Homo sapiens: one gene and its partner. The protein of the gene in region 1 purifies or fractionates together with the protein of each later gene. This does not show direct contact. Each region holds a gene or a part of one and is shown on either strand. Other genes may lie near its edges.

Region 1 (3,749 bases):
ACCCGGCTAATTTTTGTATTTTTAGTATTTTTAGTAGAGACAGGGTTTCATCATGTTGGCCAGGCTGGTCTCGAGCTCCTCACCTCAGTTGGTCTGCCCGCCTTGGCCTTCCAAAGTGCACGGATTACAAGCGTGAGCGACTGCATCCGCTCATCAACAGTATCTTAATAGAAATTCTCAATATTGGCCTGAGGTCATTGGGTCAGCAATCAGGATCAATTTTTGAGATTAGGAAATGAGGCTCAAAGAGTTAAACTATGTTGGTCAAAATAATGCAATTAGAGGGATGGCAAAGCCAGCCAGAGGCATCTTTCTAAGGAGCCTCCTGAATTCATGCTCGGGCTCTGGAGTCAGAAGGACCTGAGTTTGAGCCATGTACTAACTGAGAGATTGGAGATGTCACTGCACACCTCTGAGTTTTACCTAATTACAGCCTAAGAATAATAACAGTATCTACTTTAGGTGGTTGTTCTGCGGATTATGTGAAATAATGTAGGTAACGACATTCATTGTAACAATATGTTGCATGATAATACACATTATAACATGTTGCTCATGAGTTTTGCTTTAGCAGTATTTGTGGTAGTTCCAAAACTCAGTTCACGTGTCTTAAGACTTCTCTTATTATACACTCTCATCTCTTCCCTGCTTTCTACTCTTCCTTTTTTTTTTTTTTTTTTTTTTTGAGACAGGGCCTCTCTCTGTCACTCAGGCTGGAGTACGGTGATGCGACCTCGGCTCACTGGGCTCACTGCAGCCTCTGCCTCCAGGGCTCAAGTTATCCTCCCACCTCAGCCTTTCGAGTAGCTAGGGCTACAGGCACATGCCACACTACGCCTGGCTAATTTTTGTATTTTTGTATTTTATTTTTTTTGTCATGACGGGGGTTCTTGCTACATTGCTCAGGCTGGTCTTAAACCTCGGCTAGGATTACCGGCGTGAGCCACTGTGCCAGCCATCCACTCTTCCTCTTTTAGCTTAATCTACCTGAAACAGCTGATTGTTCCATGTTTGGAGGCGTATTAGTGAAGACATTGTTTTCTCCTCCCCCTTTTCGGGGATCCATTTCTTGAGGACTGGGAGAGCTTCTCTTCATAGCAGCACTCCTCCGGACTCCCAGGCCATATACACTCAGGAAATGTTGGTTATCCAATGAATGACGCCAGGAAGAAGGGTCTGCTCCCAACACGGCCTTAGCACAGTGCCTGGAAGTTATAACAGATTCTGGCACACAGCAGGAGCTCAGGAAACATTTATGTAATGAATGAATGAATGAATGAATGAGTGCACACAGTAACTAGGAGTAAGGGCTCAATAAACATTTCTGTATTAAACGCACAGTGTCTGGAACACAGTAAGCGCTCCGTCTATGGCAGCCGTGAATATCCCTGGGCGAAGCCTGTGAAACCTTGTCCAAGAGCTTGGCTTCACTGTGCGCGGGTTCGAATCTGGACTCCTCTTCCCAAGTGTGCGACCTCGGGCAAGTGATTTAATCCCTTTGTGCTTTAGTTTTCTCCTCTGCAAAAGGCGGACGGCGGCGCGAGCCTCTGAGGACACATTCCCCAGGGCACTCGGACCCGCTGCCTGGCCCACATCGCGGCCGCCGCGCCACGCCAGCCGGCCTGGGCTGCGAGGGCACAGGCCGGGGGTCCCGCGCCCTCCTCCGCGGCCACCACGGGCGCGCCCGGGACCCACGGTCCCGCCCCGCCACGATCAGTGCACCGCGAGGGGGCGGGGCGGCCACGAGGGGCAGCCCACGGCAGCCACGGGCCGGCAGTCCGCCGCCCGCCGGGGAGCCCGGCCGCCCGCACTTCTTTCTCTCCCTCTCTGCCTCCCTCCCTCCCTCTTCCCGGCCGGAGGACCCGGCCGCGCTCAGCTCAGCAGCGCCTCCCGCGAGCCGCCGCCGCCGCCGCCACTCCGGACCCCTCCCCCGCCCGCCCCTCGCTCCCCCCGCGCGGCCGGCGCCCGTCACGTGACCAAGCGCCAGCCAATGGCGGGCCGAGCCGCGGTCGGCGGCCGCCATTGCTGTCAGAGCAAGCGAGCCCGGGGAGGGAGGAGAAGCGAGGCTGACTGGGGAGGAGGGGGGGGTGGGGGAGGAAGAGGAAGGAGGGGACGTCGCTCGGCTGCCGGGGTCGCCCGCTGGCTTCGTCCGCACCCCCCCCTTCGCGAGTTCGCGCTCCGCGGCGGCGGCGGCTCCGAGGCGGCGGCGGCGGCTCCGGGGCTCGCCTCCCCTCGCGCGCCGGCGGGGGCCGAGGGGGAGTCGGTGGCTGGAGATAAACAAGGCGGCGGCAGCGGCAGCAGCGGCGGCGGCGGCGGCTGAGGAGCAGGGAAGGCGGAGGCGGTGGCCGGCCCGCAGCGCCGGCCCGGGGCGCGCGCCCCCCCCGCCAGCCCGGGCCCGCTGCCCCCGGCGCGGCGTCGCCGCGGCGCCTCCCGCCTGCCCGCCGGCCCTCGCGCCCTCCCCCGGCGGCGGCGGCGGCCCGGCCGCCCCGCGCTCCCCGGCGAGGCGCCGCCGCCCGGCCCGGCCTCGCCTCGGACGCCTCGCTCCGACATGCCCCGCTCTGGCGGCCGGGCTCGCGGAGGATCATGACTGCGGCAGCGAACTGGGTGGCGAACGGGGCGAGCCTGGAGGATTGTCACTCCAACCTCTTTTCGCTGGTGAGTAGCCGGGCTGCGGGGAGGGGGCTGTGCCGGGGAAGGGGGGGGGTCCCCGACCTCCGCCGCCGACCAACTTTCTCCTCCCGCCGCCGGGACTTCGCCCCTCCCTCGCGTCTCCCCGCCGTTCGCCTCTCGCCGATTCTCCCCCTTTTGGATCGTCTCTCTCTCGCCTTGGATCCCATCCAGTGTTTATTTGGCTCTTTAAAAATCATTTGTGAGCGCGGCGCTCGGCGTGGAATTTGCATGTGGAAGTCTCGGAGCTGCGGATTCTGGGTCGCACTTCGAACGCCCACCCTCTGTTGCAATCGCACTCCCCTTCTCCTCCCCTTTCCCCCCTTTTTTTCCCCCCGTAAATGTGGAAGGCTTTGCCTTGTGCTGCCGCGCCTCCGATCGGCAACCTCTTCCCCCGTTGTTGGATCAGCTGCCTGCCCGCCCGCCTGCCTTTTGAATTTTTTTAAATTCCATAATGACACCTGCAATTTCGCCCTAAAATAGTTGATTGAATGCGATTGTGTCAGGAAAGGACTCTTGCACCCGAAGCTCCCGCGATTGTAAACATCGACAGCCGCCTGCCTCTCGGGGCTTACTATGCTGGAGAGCCGTAAAGCCATTGCACCGAGCCGACGGAAGGTGGAGAAAGCTTTTTCTTCTTTCTCTCCTCCTGTGTCTTTTAAAAACTGTTTTTCTCTATCCTAACAACGAATCCGCACACACACACACACACACACACACACACACACACACACACACAAAAGCAACAAGCTGGTCGGTTTGATAACATCGCTTTTATCTGCCTTCGCCTCTCTCGCGCTCTCTCTTTCTGATAATTGACAACTTTTCCTTCGGATTTGAATCGCCTGCCTTAATCTTGAAGCAGTTAGGGTGTCAATTGTTCTCGTGGAAGCCTGGCACCCGCCGACGGTGTCTAGATTCATCGAAATTAAAAATGTATAGGGCTCCAGCAACTCTTTTCCTGGCGGTGTCAGTGACATTTGGTGGTAAATGCCATCTTTGCTTTTTATTGGGTCGTATTACCTACCTCTGAAAACATTCACGTTGTTAAACCTGGCGTTTAGGCTAATAATTGCAGTGCG
Region 2 (3,749 bases), on another chromosome or scaffold:
TGCAAATGGCCTATAATAATTATAATTTTTCATTATTTCTGTTTTCCTAGCTGAAATTCAGCATGCCAGAAGCCCTGTCCCTACCTTTCATCTTTCCACACATCAGAGCCCCAACAAGAGAAATTCCATTACTTCCTAAACTCTAAGTAGCAAAAGAACTTCTTTCCCCTTCCAATTTGTTACCATCCATCACCTCAGCAGCATATGAAATTCTGACTCCTTACACCTCATGGAGGTGAGGCCAAAGCAGAATCATTTGCCAACCAGAGCCCCAGGCAAAACAGAGTTCTGCCATGGCAGTTTTACACATGAGAGAGTCTTAAATCAGACCCCTGGATTTCAGAGGCTGCTTTTCTTGAATGGCCAATGTTCTCATGATTGAAAACTGACACACACACAATTATGGTGTTCGGTGCAAACGCTGATAAATTTATCTCCACTGTTAAATAATGAGTACCTCACCATGTCCAACGGGTACAATGGAACATTTGTAGTGCATATATATACTACTACACGTACAGCAAGAACTCAAAAAATGCTGGCCAGGGAAAACAAGGGGAAAAGAAAGGCATGGCAAGGAAAAATTAAAACCCACAAAATTTGCTGGGGTCTGCAGAAAATACAATTTTAAAAAAAATCCCTTTGTCCTATTCCTGTTGGAATGTCTTTTCTGATGAGACCTTCCCTGTCTTCTATGATCCAAATCAAATACTGTAAACTTTGAAGCTTTTCCTAAAAACCTTAACCAGTTGGGGACTTCCTTCTCTGTGTTGCCATATACCTTGCATTAATTATTATAGTGCTTATTGAATTGCAACATTTACATGTTTGTTTCCCCAGTAGTTATCTCCCCAAATAATGGAATACTTCATTCGTCTTTGCATTCCCAATACCTTGGACAGTGCTTGGCACATAGAAGGGTCCAATAAATACTTGTTGAATGAATGAGTAATTGACTTCTTCAAATGTTCAAAGACACAGTAAAAGTAATAACTCACATGAACAAATCCCAAATGAATTGATTTTCCAGTATTGCTACTAAAAAAATGAAATTTAAGCATGAAATCTCAACGTGGCCTAAATAGCGGATCTGAATGCACTGATATCTAAGGTAGGTAACTTCAACCACATGGAAATAAGAAGTACACAGCAAATACAGTCATCCCTCAGTATCCACAAGGGGTGCGTTCCAGGACCGTCCCCCAAAATCCACAGATGCTCAAGTTTCTAATATAAAATGGTGTCCTATTTGCATATAACCTACGCATATCCTCCCACACACTTTAAATCATCTCTAGATTACTTATAATACCTAATAAAATGTAAATGCTATGTAAACAGTTGTTATACTCTATTTTTTAAGGAAATAATGACAAGAAAAAAAATCTGTACATGCTCAGTAGAGATGCAACTATCCTTCCCCCTACCCCCTCGAAAATTTTTGAACCACAGTTGCTTGAATCTACAGATGCAGGACCTGCAGACACAGGGGACTAACTGTCCTCTTCTGTCACATTTTTAGAAGGTTATAAGGAATACTCTTTATTGTATACATGACTATTCCAGTGATAGAAATTACATATTGTATTTGGCATTTCTGACATCTAAAGAAATATTTAAATCAAAATGAACTTAGATACAGCATTCAGCCATATTCAGAAGGGGAAAAAGGTAATGGGATGCTCCAATGCAGGTTGAATCAGAAGAGTTCCTTTGTGCTGCCCACCAACTGAATGGTTCAAGGGAGTGGGAACAGGCACTAGTCCATAAATCCTCAATATCTTAAGAGATAAATACAGAGGAATGGCAAGGTAGCGTAAGACATGTTGGGTTAAGTAACTGATAGGTCTTTGGGAGTTACCAAGCTTTTTGGCAGTTGATGAGAACCAACGTTAAAGCATGAGACTAAAAAATATGGAAATGCACCATCATCTAAAGTAAAATTTTTTAGTGGTTGTTTGCCTAATCTTGCAAAAAATATTACATTTTATGTTCATAATTTTTACTTCCTCAAATCATAATACTAGAAAAGACCCTAAAAATTATATGCTGAAACCCCCCTACTAAGAGCTATAAGGGCAAATGACTTGCCCAAGGTCATACTGCTATCAGAAGCACAGTCTGAATTCAAATTCAGGTTTCCAGGATCGCTCATCTAGAGTTCTTTCCACTAGATGAAGTGCTTCCACATGGCTTTCATTAGAGTTTAGTCCTACACACACACACACACACACACCCCTCTAGATACACAAGTATGTTTGTGTATATACGTACAGACACACCCATATATCTACATAAACAGTTTTATAGCACTTGAAAAAAAGGGTGCTTCAGCAATATACCCAGAAAGTACACCAGTTTATTGAAGCAAATATTAATAGTTCTACAAGGTATTTATGTTTTTGAATAACCCACTAGAAATCAAACTCCATAACTATTTTTTTACTTATTCAATATATTAATTATAGGAAGCATAATGGTTAAGAGCATGGGCTCTGGAGTGAAAAACCTGCGCCTAATCCTCTAATCTTAGCTGACATTTAATTAGCTGTGTACTCATGGGTAAATTTGCTTAACCTTTCTAAGCCTCAGTTTCCTCAACTGGAAAACTGAAAAATAACAGAATTGACTTGATATACTTCTTGTGAGGACTAACTAGATGATGAATGTAAAGTGCTTTGCCCAGGACCTGAAACTTAATTACTCAGTAATTTAGCTATTATTGCCATTATCACTGCCTACTTACTAATCTCTGGGCTCTCAACAAATGTGCCCCAAAGAAAGTTGGCAGTATCTCTCTCTCTCTCACACACACACACACACACACACACACAAACACACACTCATTCCTCACTCATAATTATCTATTCTTTGGAACATAGATTATAACAGATTAAAAACCCTGCTAAGAAAATGCCTTTTGTTTTTCTTTTTTGAAGAAAAACCTCTTATCCCAAATTGATATTTTAAATTATCCAAACATTCAGTGCAAATATTGAAGTCTAGAATTTAAAAACACAAATTGTTTTCTGTCTTCTAACGCTCTCTTACTCTTTAAAACAAAATTAGTTTGGTTGCCTAAACTCTGCAAAGAGGAGATACAATCAACTCAGAAAGAAAATGAACCCCCCTGCTTCCCACTGAGTACTCTTTAAGTGTTCAGACACAAAGGACACTATCTCATTTACGGCGACACGAGTGAGAACAAATTAATCCCAAGATTTATTGTGCATTTCTTTAAACTCTATTATAATGTGAAATTAACAAAGTTATAAAAGGTCCCTTTTCCCTACTATGCAATCATGCCTCAAGTAAGTCAAAGAAATGAATCTTTGAAGCTATTTTATTTCCTAAAACTTAATAATTTAAGCAGCTAACTTCTCTGGTCTAAATTATTTTACCAATTATTCATGTTCTATGCTCACTGGGCAACTGAAAGGATACAACGTTTACATACATTCATTTCAATAGTCAAATATGTCTAAACCAAGCTTATTTGCGTTACTTCCTTTTATAGAAAATCTCAGGTTCTCCTTAAAGGTGTTACTGTCTGAGTTCCTAGAGAACAAATCTCAGCTGCAGAATATATAATGTAATTTGAAAGTAAATCAATACTAGAAACAAATTATTTGATCATCATCTTATTATGAAAGATTAAACAGCCACAAATTTTATTTTACCAGGACTAAAATGCATTAAATTACATTTCACTGACATAAGATCAAAAGAACCTCATAAATACTATGCGA

What was found.
Region 2: the proteins of MED13L (region 1) and CDK8 purify together in Homo sapiens (affinity purification with mass spectrometry; 8 studies listed by BioGRID and IntAct, with this or other methods). This does not show direct contact.

The regions. Positions count from the first base shown.
Region 1 is NC_000012.12:116,275,966-116,279,714, reverse strand, and holds the start of MED13L (mediator of RNA polymerase II transcription subunit 13-like), read left to right. Parts: upstream 1-2,021; 5' UTR 2,022-2,583; coding exon 2,584-2,655; intron 2,656-3,022; exon of another isoform or gene 3,023-3,243; coding exon of another isoform or gene 3,244-3,285; intron 3,286-3,749. UniProt on the Homo sapiens protein: Component of the Mediator complex, a coactivator involved in the regulated transcription of nearly all RNA polymerase II-dependent genes.
Region 2 is NC_000013.11:26,256,980-26,260,728, reverse strand, and holds part of CDK8 (cyclin-dependent kinase 8), read right to left. Parts: intron 1-3,749.